2 linked regions of the Homo sapiens genome follow. Changing the gene in region 2 together with the main gene of any one other region gives a genetic interaction. Each region holds a gene or a part of one and is shown on either strand. Other genes may lie near its edges.

The links.
Region 1: changes in CFLAR (region 2) and EHMT2 together harm fitness less than expected from each alone (positive genetic interaction), as found in Homo sapiens cells (one large-scale study listed by BioGRID).

The regions. Positions count from the first base shown.
Region 1 is NC_000006.12:31,891,172-31,894,829, reverse strand, and holds part of EHMT2 (histone-lysine N-methyltransferase EHMT2), read left to right. Parts: intron 1-1,167; exon of another isoform or gene 1,168-1,468; intron 1,469-1,919; coding exon 1,920-2,004; intron 2,005-2,095; coding exon 2,096-2,136; intron 2,137-2,267; coding exon 2,268-2,423; intron 2,424-3,658. UniProt on the Homo sapiens protein: Histone methyltransferase that specifically mono- and dimethylates 'Lys-9' of histone H3 (H3K9me1 and H3K9me2, respectively) in euchromatin.
Region 2 is NC_000002.12:201,168,053-201,171,710, reverse strand, and holds part of CFLAR (CASP8 and FADD-like apoptosis regulator), read right to left. Parts: 3' UTR 1-3,658. UniProt on the Homo sapiens protein: Apoptosis regulator protein which may function as a crucial link between cell survival and cell death pathways in mammalian cells. Acts as an inhibitor of TNFRSF6 mediated apoptosis.

The DNA.
Region 1 (3,658 bases), on a different chromosome or scaffold from region 2:
AATAATAATAATAATAATAAATTAGCCAGGTGTGGTGGCGTGCGCCTGTAATCCCAGCTAGTCGAGAGGCTGAGGCAGGAGAATCACTTGCAGTGAGCCAAGATCGCGCCACTGCGGTTCAGCCTGGGCAACAGAGCGAGACTCAAAAAAAATAGCACAATTCTAACAATATGCCACCATCACTGCTGATGAACTGGATAAGAGGGGACTAGTGTCACGTAAAATTTACCATCTAAAAAACAATTTTAGGCCAGGCGCAGTGGCTCACGCCTGTAATCTCAGCACTTTGGAGGCCGAGGCGGGAGGATCACCTGAGGTCAGGAGTTTGAGACCAGCCTGGCCAACATAGTGAAACCCTGTCTCTACTAAAAATACAAAAATTAGGCCAGGCGGGGTGCCTCACGCATGTAATCCCAGCACTTTGGGAGGCCAAGGCAGGTGGATCACCTGAGGTCAGGAGTTCGAGACCAGCCGGACGAACATGGTGAAACCCCATCTCTATTAAAAATACAAAATTAGCCGGGCATGGTGGTACATGCCTGTAACAGTCCGCTACTTGGGAGGCTGAGGCAGGAGAATCGCTTGAATCCAGGAGGCAGAGGTTGTAGTTAGCCGAGATCCTGCCATTGCACTCCAGCCTGGACAACAAGAGCAAAACTCTGTCTCAAAAAAAAAAACAAAACAAAAATTAGCCGGGCGTGGTGGCATGTGCCTGTAGTTCCAGCTACTCAGGAGGCAGAGGTGAGAGAAACGCTTGAACCTGGGAGGTAGAGGCTGCAGTGAACTGAGATCGCGCCACTGCACTCCAGCTTGGGCAACAGAGTGAGACTCCATCTAAAAATTTAAAAATAAAATAAAAAACATTTTTAAGTATATAATTTAATGGTATTAAATACTTTCATCATGTGCAATCATCAGTCACCATAACTCATCTTGTAAAACTGAAACTCTGTACCCATTAAAACATAACTCTCCATTCCCTCCACCCCCTAGCCCCTGGCAAGGACCACTGTCCTTTCTTTCTCTATAAATTTGAGTAAGTACTTTATCTAAGTGTAATCATACAGTATTTATCCTTTTGTGACTGGCTTATTTCACTTAGCATAATGTCCTCAAGGTTCATCTATGTTGTACCATGTCAGAATTTCTTTCCTTTCACCTGGGCAGCATACCAAGACCCCATCTCTAAAAGAAGTTTAAAAGAATGTTTCAAAGGCCAGGCCCAGTGACTCACGCCTGTAATCCCGTACTTTCTGGGGAGGATCACTTGACACCAGGAGTTCAAGACCAGCCTGGGCAACATGGCAAGACCTCTTCTCTACCAAAAAAAAAAATTAAGAAGACATTAGTTAGGCATTGTGACATGTGCCTGTAATCCCAGCTTCCCAGGAAGCTGAGGCAGGAGAATGGCTTGAGTCCAGTTCGAGGCTGAAGTGAGCCATAGTCATGCCACTGCACTCCATCCTGGGTAACAGAATGAGACCTTATCTCTTAAAAAAAGTATATCTTTCCTTTTTATGGCTGAATGTTATTCCATTGTGTATAAATGCCACATTTTGCTTATCCATTCATCTGTCAGTGGCACTTGAGTTGCTTCCGCACCTCAGCTGTTGTAAACAGTCCTGCTGTGTATATGGCCACATATAAAAGGTCTTTTAACTTTATTAAGCTTTGTTTTCTCATCTGTAAAATGGAAAAGGGCCTGCTCTGCATGGTTGCAGAGATGAGTGAGTGTTAGTGTGCTTGACACTCTTCCTCTGAGGAAATAGCACCCGTGGTTGCCAGTTTGTGGCTACTGGAGCCTCACATGGCATTTGGAGGTGTGGCTCACTACCCCACCCCCGCCTGGGGCTCCAGGCTAACCCAGGCAAAACTGTAGGTGCTCTCTGACCCTCAGTGTGCTCCCTCTCGGCCCACAGCCCCCGGTCCCTGAGAAGCGGCCCCCTGAAATACAGCATTTCCGCATGAGTGATGATGTCCACTCACTGGGAAAGGTGACCTCAGGTCAGTCCCATCCCCCACCCCCGGTGGCTTGATGTGGTCTGTTCTGAAGGTTTCGGTGATAGGCCCCACACCATTCTCTCTCTTCTTCCAGATCTGGCCAAAAGGAGGAAGCTGAACTCAGGAGGTGGCCTGGTAAGCAGCAGAGGCAGAGCCTCTACCCCTCGGGGGCTGCTCTGAGGGAGGGTCAGAGGTGGGGCTGCATCCCATCCTCAGTAGAAATGCGCAGGGTGTCAGTGGCCTCAATTTTTCTGATCTTTTTCTAGTCAGAGGAGTTAGGTTCTGCCCGGCGTTCAGGAGAAGTGACCCTGACGAAAGGGGACCCCGGGTCCCTGGAGGAGTGGGAGACGGTGGTGGGTGATGACTTCAGTCTCTACTATGATTCCTACTCTGTGGATGAGCGCGTGGACTCCGACAGCAAGGTGAGACAGAGCTGGTCTGCCCTCCCCGCCGGTGCTCCCCCAGGGCTGGGGCTCACTGTCCAGTCCTCCTTGTTCCCTGTTTTTCTGCTTTCTGTCCTTTTTATCTTCTGAATATCCACTAAGTCATTGCCCCATGCTGTCTATAACTCCTTTTTTTTGTGGGGGGAGACGGAATCTCATTCTGTCGCCCAGGCTGGAGCGCAATATCACGATCTGGGCTCACTGCAACCTCTGTCTCCAGGGTTAAAGCAATTCTCCTGCCTCAGCCTCCCGAGTAGCTGGGATTACAGGCACCTGCCACCACGCCCGGCTAATTTTTGTATTTTTAGTAGAGACGGGGTTTCCCTGTGTTGGCCAGGCTGGTCTCTAACTCCTGACCTTAGTTGATCCACCCACCTTGGCCTCCCAAAGTGCTGGGATTACAGCTGTGAGCCACCGCGCCCAGCTGTAACTCATTTTCAATGTGTATTCTGCCCGTTTCATCCACAAAGGTGGCCACCACCCTGCACATGGGATTTAGTATTCTTTTTTTTTTAATCAGCTAATGAAATGACCATTTAACAGACATGTACTGTTTAAAAAAAGAAAACAAAAAAAGAAATGACCAGAAAGCACTTTTTTAAAACATACGTTATGCTGTTTATATAAAATTCAAAAGCATTGCATTGTCATTTATTTGCTTATTTCGTTGCTCTTTGTCTGGTTTTATCTTATATGTTTGCCTACACAGTAGAATGTTTAGTCTCTCTGATTTTGCCTTTTATTTAACATTTTATCATGAAAACTTGCAAGCATAATCAAAAGAGTAGAATAGGGAGCCCCCATGTACCCAATACACAGCTCCAGCCATTATCAGTACACAGTCCATCTTGACCCATCTGTACATCTCCCAGCACACACACCTACTAGGTTATTTTAAAGCAAATCCCAGACCTCATATCATTTTACCTAAACATATATCCATATAGATTTGTAAATATAAGGCCTCTTTTTGTCGTTCAACATCATTACACTACTGTTTTCACACCTAAAAAAACTTACCGATTTCTTAATACCATCAAATATCCTGTCAGTCTTCACATTTCCTCAGCTCTCACAAATGGTTTTTGTCAAGATCCAAATGAGGCCCACACCTTGATTTGATTAACATTTGTCTTAGGTCAGCCAGGCACAGTGGCTCACGCCTGTAATCCCAATACTTTGGGAGGCCAAGGCGGGCAGATCACGTGAGGTTG
Region 2 (3,658 bases):
TATGCATTGAAGAATCTTTTTTTTTTTTTTTGTATTCTCTAAAGATTTTTAAAATATTTTAAGTTCTGGATACAAGTGCAGGATGTGCGGGTTTGTTACATAGGTAAACGTGTCCCATGGTGGTTTGCTGCACCTATCAACCTATCACCTAGGTATTAAGCCCCACATGCATTAGCTAGTTATCCTGATGCTCTCCCCGCTACGGCCCCTGCATCAGGCCCCAGTGTGTGTTGATCTCATCCCTGTGTCCGTGTGTTCTCATTGTTCAGCTTCCGCTTACAAGTGAGAACATGTGGTGTTTGGTTTCCTGCTCCTCTGTTAGTTTGCTGAGGATAATGGCTTCCAGCTTCATCCATGTCCCTGCAAAGGACATGATCTCATTCCTTTTTTAAAAAAAAAAACAAAATTATTTCCATAGGTGTTTGGGGAACAGGTGGTATCTGGTTACATGCGTAAGTAATTAAGTGGTTACTTGTGAGATTCTGGTGCACCCATCACCTGAGCAGTATACACTGAACCCAATTTGTATTCTTTTATCCTTCACCCCCCTCCCACCCTTTCCCCTAAGTCCCCAAAGTCCATTGTATCCTTCTTATGCCTTTGCATCCTCATAGCTTATCTCCCACTTATGAGTGAGAACATACAATGTTTGGTTTTCCATTCCTCAGTTACTTCCTTTAGAGTAATAGTCTCCAGGTTGCTGTGAATGTCATTAATTCATTCCTTTTTATGGCTGAGTAGTGTTTAGGTGAGGTTATTTGTAAGTAATTAATATTGAGTAAATAAGATTCATCCATAGTGGCAAAGCCACATAACTTCTAAGTATCTTAAACTATATCTAAATGGTACCAAAACATGCAGTCAATTCTAAAAGCTCAGCTAATGATATTTCATAATATAGGAAAATATTCACAACATATTTTTGTGTAAAAAAAAGCAGACTTCAAAATGGAATATGCATTATGATTCCAATCATGTAAAAGCTATACATGAACACATACAAAGATTAACAGATATAAACAAATGGAAGAATGAATGGAGAGATAGATGATAGACAGATTGAGTGGTGGTGGAGAATAACAGATTTAAAAAGAAATTGTGCCTTTCTATATTTTCAAAACCATTTAAATAAGTATTACCTTTGGAGTTAGAAAATGATATGTATTTTAAATCCATAATTCAACTACTTATCTATATGATGTCAAACTGGATTAGGCTGAATTATCAGCAAGTGAATAAAACAGTTCCTTCATCCATGGAGAAACATCCATTTATGACATTCTTGGAATTCCTCTTGTTAGAATTCTTTATGAATTTAAAATAGAAACATGGCCAGACTCAAGATTTCAATACAAACATTACTTTTTCACGTTCAGTAATAACCAATTAAAAGAATTAATGAAAAATCTGATTCACTGTATCACCAAAAGCTGTAATGGCTGCACTGCACAGTATTCCATGGTGTATATGTACCACATTTTCTTTATCCAGTCTATCTTTGATGGGCATTTGCTATTGTGTCTTTGCTATTGTGAAGAGTGCTGCAATGAACAAAAATGTGCATGTATCTTTATAATAAAATGGTTTATATTCCTTTGGGTATATACCCAGTAATGGGATTGCTGGGACAAATAGTATTTCTAGTTCTAGATCTTTGAGGAATAGCCACACACACTTCCACAACGGTTGAACTAATTTACATTCCCACCAACAATGTAAAAGTGTTCCTACTTCTCCACAGCCTCGCCAGCATCTGTTGTTTTTTGACTTTTTAATAATCACCATTCTGACCGGCATGAGATGGTATCTCATTGTGGTTCTCCTTTGCATTTCTCTAATGATCAGTAAGGTTGAGCTTTTTTTTATATGTTTGTTGGCCACATAAATGTCTTCTTTTGAGAAGTGTCTGTTCATGTCCTTTGTCCACTTTTTGATGGGGTTGTTTTTTTCCTTGTAAATTTGTTTTAAGTTCCTTGTAGGTTCTGGATATTAGACCTTTGTCAGATGGATAGATTGCAAAAATGTTCTCCCATTCTGTAGGTTGCCTGTTCACTCTAATGATAGTTTCTTTTGCTGTGCAGGAGCTCTTTAGTTTAATTAGATCCCATTTGTAATTTTTGCTTTTGTTGCAATTGCTTTTGATGTTTTTGTCATGAAACCTTTGCTTGTGCCTATGTCTTGAATGGTATTAAATAGATTTTCTTCTAGGGTTTTTATAGTTTTAGGTTTTACATTAAGTCTTTAATCTTGAGTTAATTTTTGTATAAGGTGTAAGGAAGGGGTCAGTTTCAATTTTCTGCATATGGCTAGCCAGTTTTCCCAGCACCATTTATTAAATAGGGAATCTTTTCCCCATTGCTTGTTTTTGTCAGGTTTGTCGATGATCAGATGGCTGTAGATGTGTGGTCTTCTTTCTCTGGTCTCTATTCTGTTCCATTGGTCTATGTGTCTGTTTTTGTACCAGTACCATGCCATTTTGGCTACTGTAGCCTTGCAGTATACTTTGAAGTTGGGTAGTGTGATGCTTCCAGCTTTGTTCTTTTTGCTTATTGTTGTCTTGGTTATACGGGCTCTTTTTTGGTTCCATTTGAATTTTAAAGTAGTTTTTTTCTAATTCTGTGAAGAATGTCAATAGTAGTTTAATGGGAATAGCAATGAACCTATAAATTACTTTGGGTAGTATGGCCATTTTCATGATATTGATTCTTCCTATCCACGAGAATGGAATGTTTTTTCATTTGTGTCCTCTCTTATTTCCTTGAGCAGTGGTTTGTAGTTCTCCTTGAAGAGATCCTTCACATCTTATTAGCTGTATTCCTAGGTATTTTATTCTCTTTCTAGCAACTGTGAATGGGAGTTCATTCATGATTTGGCTCTCTGCTTGTGTATTGTTGGTGTATAGAATGCTTGTGATTTCTGCACATTGATTTTGTATCCTGAGACTTTGCTGAAGTTGCTTATCAGCTTAAGGAACTTTTGGGTGGAGATAATGGGGTTTTCTAGATATAGTATCATGTCATCTGCAAACACAGTTTTACTTCCTCTTTTCCTATTTGAATACCCCTTATTTGTTTCTCTTGCCTGATTTTCTTGGCCAGAACTTCCAATACTATGTTAAATAGGAGTGGTGAGACGGCATCCCTGTCTTGTGCCAGTTTTCAAGGGGAATGCTTCCAGCTTTTGCCCATTCAGTATGATAATGGCTGTGGGTTTGTCATAAATGGTTATTATTTTGAGATATTTTCCATCAATACCTAGTTTATTGAGAGTTTTTAACATGAAGCAACGTTGAATTTTATTGAAGGCCTTTTCTGTATCTATTGAGATAATCATGTGGTTTTTGTCTTTAGTTCTGTTTATGTGATGAATTATGTTTCTTGATTTGCGTATGTTGAACCAGCCTTGCATCCCAGGGATGAAGCCAACATTCCAAACATTTTATTTATTATTTATTTATTTATTTATTTTTGAGACAGAGTCTCGCACTGTCGCCCAGGCTGGAGTGCAGTGGCAAGATCTCAGCTCGCTGCAAGCTCCACCTCCCAGGTTCATGCCGTTCTCTTGCCTCGGCCTCCCAAATAGCAGGGACTACAGGCGACCGCCACAACGCCTGGCTAATTTTTTGTATTTTTAGTAGAGACGGGGTTTTACATGTTAG